Linked DNA regions of Homo sapiens: region 1 is linked to region 2. The links come from fine-mapping of genetic effects on gene expression. A gene starts in region 2. The other region holds a variant in brackets. All regions are shown on one strand. Distances are between the middles of the regions.

Evidence for each region. PIP is the estimated chance that this variant, and not a neighbour inherited with it, causes the effect.
Region 1: its variant is fine-mapped to the expression of COL5A2 in whole blood (TOPMed, PIP above 0.99).

What each region holds. Positions count from the first base shown.
Region 1 is chr2:189,397,643-189,400,566 of GRCh38, forward strand. It overlaps a transcript of COL5A2 not described here. Among named protein-coding and RNA genes, the nearest start is that of WDR75, 42 kb to the right of the region's middle. The variant C/T (reference allele first, on the strand shown) is at 1,608.
Region 2 is chr2:189,178,387-189,181,310 of GRCh38, forward strand. It overlaps COL5A2 (collagen type V alpha 2 chain), which reads right to left and starts at 1,375. Exons shown (of 54, transcript NM_000393.5): 1 at 1,122-1,375. The coding sequence starts at 1,218.

The DNA.
Region 1 (2,924 bases), 220 kb after region 2:
AATCTGTGATGATGTCTCCTTTTTCATTTCAATATTAAACATTTGTGTCTTCTTTCTCTTGTCTTTTATTAATAACACCAAAGATTTATCAAACTTATTACTCTTCTATAAAATTAAATTTTGGCTTTTTAAAATTTCTTATAAACTTGTTTTCTATTTTATTAATTTCTATTCTTATCCTCATTATTTTCTTCTTTCCACTTTTTTAGTTTAATATTCTGTTCTTTTCCTATCTTATAAAGATGAATTGTTGATTTTTAGCTTTCTTCTATAATAAATTTATTCAAAAGTTTATCTCTAAACAGGGCTTTATATGCATTCCACAAATTTTAATATGTCATATTTTTATCAGCATTCAGTTCAAAATGTTTTCTAATGTCTGTGGTAATGCTTCTTTTAACCCATGGATTATTCATGATAGAACTGCTCAATTTCCAATCACTTAGAAATTTTCTAGTTGACATTTTTTTCATTAATTTCTAGTAATAATCCAATTGTGCTCACTGAATACATGCTGATATTCAATCTGATGTTCATCTGCTTTTCTATCTGATAAAATGTGTTGAGCCGGCCAAGCTATGGAAAATGTTTTATATAAGTTTTCTTCAGTTGCTGAGTGCAGTCTTCCATGTGTAAATACATATTTATATGTTAGATAATGTTTGCTATTGCTCAAATCTTCCATATTCTTCTCTCTGCTCAATCTGTTACTTAGAAATGTTATGTTAAAGTCTTCCACTTTAATTGTTGTTTTGTCCATTTAGTACTGTCAATGCTTGCTTTATATATTCTGAAGCTATTCCATTTGATACATATAATATGGAAATTATTATATCTTCCTTAAAGATTGAAACTTTTACCATTATTACTTATCTCTCTTTATCACCTATAATGCTTTTTTGTCTTGTAGTCCAGTTTTTCTGATGTTAATTTCATTATATCAGCTTTCTTCTGGTTGCTGTTTGCATGACATATCTTCTTCAATCCTTTTTCATTCGACCTTTCACTGTGCTTATATTTAACCTCTGAGTAGCAGAGCAAAATATTTATCTTTGCATCCAGTCTTACTATCTTTGTCATTTAATTGGTGTCATTCATCTGCTCACATTTAATGTAATGATTGATCTGAGTTAAATCATCTATACTATTGTTTTCTTTTTCTTGCATTATTTTGGATTGTGTGGTTGCTGTTATCTTTATTCCTCTCTATTCACTAGTTAGTTACACATTCTTTTTACTACTAGAGGTTATTCTATGATTACAATAAGCAATCTTAATTTTTTTAAGTCTAATAGTATTTTTACCATTTCTTAGACAATAGAACCATAGAATAATTGAATTCCATAAATTCTCTCTCATACTTTGTGCTGTTTTGTTATATACTTTTAAACCAGCAGCATATAGTTAGCATTGGTTAATACAATCAATATTCATTTGGATACATCCATATGTTTACTCTTATAGCTTTTTATTTCTTTCTGCATTTTTATGCTTTCAATAGGGATTATTTTCCTTCTGTGTGAAGTACTTCATTAGTGGTTCTTGTAGTACAGATCTCCTGAAGATAAATTCTTTCAGTCTTTGTTTATCTTAAAATATTTATTTTA[C/T]GATTTTTTTTTTTTTTTTGAGATGGAATCTTGCTCTGTCACCCAGGCTGGAATGCAGTGGTGTGATCTCAGCTCACTTCAACCTCCACCTCCCAGGTTCAAATGATTCTTCTGCCTCAGCCTCCCAAGTAGATGGGATTACAGGTGCCTGCCACCACACCCAGCTAATTTTAGTATTTTTAGTAGAGACAGGAGCTCACCATGTTGGCCAGGCTGGTCTCAAACTCTGACCTCAGATGATCCACCCAGCTCAGCCTCCCAAAGTGCTGGAATTACAGGCGTGAGCCACTGCACCCTGCCTACATTCGTTTTTGAAGGATATATTTTTTAGAATAGAATTTTGTGGCTGATTTATATATTACATATAATACTTTTTAGAACTTTGAGTTATAGTTTCAATGTCTTCTGCCTTCCATTGTTTTTGTTGTTGTTGTTTTGGTTTGGTTTTGGTTGGTTGGTTATCTGTTTGAAACAGGGTCTCACTCTGCTGCCCAGGCTGGAGTGCAGCAGTGTGATCATGGCTCACTGTAGCCTCAATCTCCCTGGCTCAAGAGAGCTTCCTGCCTCAGCCTCTGGAATAGCTAAGACTAGAGATACATGCCACCATGTCTGGCTAATTTTTGTATTTTTTTGTAGAGACAGGGTCCCATTATGTTGCCCAGGCTATTCCCAAACTCCTGGGCTCAAGCAATACTCCTGCCTTGGCCTCTGAAAGTGCTGAAATTACAGGTGTGAGCCACCACACCTGCCCTTCCATAGTTAAAAAGTCAACTATCAGATTTATTGTGGCCTATTTGACAGTAATACATCTCTTTATTTGATCTAATTTTATGTTTTTCTTTTTTGTTTGTTGATTGGTTTGGTTTTTTGCTATGGGTTTCAGCAGTTTTATTATTATTTGCCTACATATGTTTTTCTTGATACTTATCCTGCTCTGAGTCCTTTGCACTTCTCCAATATGTGGCTTGAATTCTCTAATTAGTTTAGAAATTGCTCAGCCATTATATTCTCAAACATTGCTTCTGCGCTATTCTCTTTCTTCTTCTGGAACTTCAACTACACATATGTCAGACCTTTGTCTCACATATTTCTTATATTCTTTTCTACATGTTTCTTTTATTCTATATAAACACTTCCTTATTCTCTACATGCCAAATTACTTTCTCTTTAGCCATACCAAATATTCCATTAAGCTACCCATTAACTTTTTTCAGTTATTTACTTTGACTTCTAGAATTTTTACAGGATATTTTTTTGCAATTGCTAGTTCCTCCTTGACGACTAATTAGAGTTATTATAAAGTCCATGTTAACAGAA
Region 2 (2,924 bases):
TATATACATATATACCTGTATGTATGTGTCTATATATGAAAGTAATAGAAAAGGTTAATGAATGTCCAAAGTTTTAAAAGCTTGAGTTTGATGTTACATGGTTGAGTTGATGAAAATCTACAGTGGCTTATTTTAAAGGAGTACATGTCTGTATTTGAAATTGCAACCCTCAAGATTAAAGATTTAATAGAGGAATCAATTTAAATATTTTCTTATATACTACAACAGCTATGCATTTTTGCTTAACCATACCATATAACCCAACTGTAACATATGAAAATTGCATAGGAAAAAAATGTGGTCACCAGGCAAGATTTATCTTTAAAAAAAAAAAAAAAAAAAAGCTTGGGTCTAAGGGGTAATGTCCATGCAAATATTCCATGCCAAATAAGATATATACAAGACATGCTGATTTCCTGCCTTCCGCCATCCAACCGGGAACCACCACTGTCCTGTTAATCAAGCCAGTAGGGTGGGAAAATACCACTGTTTAAGAAATCTGGCTTCTATCAGCCTCTGTCATGGAGAAACAAACGAGACTGCCTCCCAGTAAGCAAAAGTGATCACATTTTCACAAATGAAAATGGTAAAAAGAAGTTTAAATTGTTAAAGAGGAAAGAATGAGGAGCCAAAGACAAAGAAAAATCAAAGCTATCAGAGTTGCTGCAGAGGTTTTACTAAACAAAGAATTTTATGAAGCAGCTGAAGTTCAGTACAAAAAGACTCCACCCTACCCAGCTTCTGCCGCGACTTTTCCTTGCTCTGAAAACTCCAGCCCACAGAACAGAGCTCCTCTAACTAAAATGCCTTTAGTGCTCCGTTTTAAGCATTCACTCTTTTCTTATTTTAAACGTCCCACTCTCACACTCAGCCAAAAGGACTTATTGTAGGCTTTCCCAGAAAAATTTAGTAGTGTACTCTCTCCAACGGTGGATCTAGAAGCTCCGGATTTACAAACATCCCAATTGTCTTTCAAGTCGTTTTCCAGGTGCAAATCCGTCAGCCCCCTTCTCAAACTTCAAACCAGAACCTCCTCTTCACGCTCTTCCTGAGGCTTAACATTCCACCTATTTCCCAAACCGTGCAATAAACACTACAAGCAAAGCAAATGGCAAACTCACCATCCTCGTCTTCTTCCTGGGCTTTTATTGAGACAAATTGCCCTAATAAAACAATAAGAATGAGGAGAGGTCTTGCTTCCGCCCAGTTTGCCATCATGTCTAAATATTAGACATGTGGGTTCTCCTGAGAGTGAAAAGTAGATTCTGAGGTTATTGTAGCACCATGAAGTCAGCTGTGGGCTCTTCTTTCAGCACCAGCCCCAGGGCAGCCTCTGCAAACCCCCTTTTTCAGCACCAGCTCCAGCACAGTCTGCGAAAACTTTTTTCAAGCGATGCAGCTTTAAATAGGAAGAATGCTGCCTCCACTTCTTTTCCTGCCCCTTTTCAGCTTGTTCAGGCTCATAACCATCCAGTGTCTGCCAAGCAACGGTCTGATTGATGGTAAACAACCAAATCAGAACACGCGTCTCTGTGCCTGAACTTTCCCTATTTCATTTAACTTTTAAGCATAGATGGGGCTTAATAACAGAAACAAACATTTGTTTCTCTTTTCTTTTATTTTTTAAGAAAGGCTGTTAGAAGAAAAGGGTTCTATTTTCCCCTCCCTAACCCTTCCCCCCAGACACACACCCTTTAACTTTTCCCCTATAAGCTGAAAAAGACATTCCGAAGGAAATCCAGCCTTTTACCCTAGTTTTTTTACATTTAGATAATTCAAGACTCTCTTCTCCACCTTAAATCTTTAAACAATCACATTTTAACCCTTTCTTTTGACTGAATAGGGAGTATTCTTATCCCCTTCTCAGATTCGGTTTCTTTTCCCATACTCTGGAAGGAGATTATTAGAATGTTGCCCAGGTAAAGTCCAGGTTAGAAAACCATTTTGGATAAATGAATTTGTGATACATTGTAATTTGAATTAAGAAAGCATGTCCTTTCCTAATTTCTCCACATCTCTTGTTAAGGGGCCACATCTTCAGGTTCCTCTTGTCCCAGAGAGTTTTACCATGTTGAAAAATAGTCTACTAAGCAGTGCAGAGGAATGGGAAGTACTCTACCTTTGGATGAAAAAAGGCTTGCTTCTGCCTTTTGTGAGTGGTTCTGCCACTCAATAATTTTGTAAATGTGCATATAGTCCTTTATCTCTGTGCACTCCAATTTTCTCATTTGAGAAAAGGGCTTTACCCTGACCAGTGTACAGGGTTTAGTGACACTAAAATGAGTAATGTATTATTAATGAAGCTCCAAATTGCAAAGAGCTACATAAAAGCAGATGGTGGTATTATTAGCTTTAAGCCAGCTTTGCAGGGAATATGATAGCCCCAGTTGAACATGCATTTTAAGGAAAATTATCGATGAACTTTTGTGCCACCCTCACACTTGCCAAGATCTTAATGACCTCAGAGAGTTCTATACAATCTAATGTATTTGCCACCTTGAGTCTCCCTAGAATCAGGATGGATGTTCTATACAATACAAGTGAGTCAATTGTTTATAATTATTGGGCAACAGGTGCCTTGCACTGTGCTAAGCACTGGGCAGAAAGGATGACATAAAAGAAATAAAAGACATACCCATCACCTTCAAGGAACATATGTAGGTGTTGAGAAACTAAATTTACAAGAAATAAAGATATATAAGCCAGAGCATATAAATATGTGAGGGATGCATTAAGCCCGGAGAAAGGAGAAATTATCAAATGAGATTAGGCAAGCAAGACATTATTACTGTTCTTAATAGAAGAAATCCAAGAACCTTTGCATTTTAGCTTTGGAACTAGACTCTGGATAAATATTCCAGTGGAGGTCAATTTTCCCGGTTGTTTCCAGCTTCTAACCCTGTACCTCTCAGTTTATCTTTTCA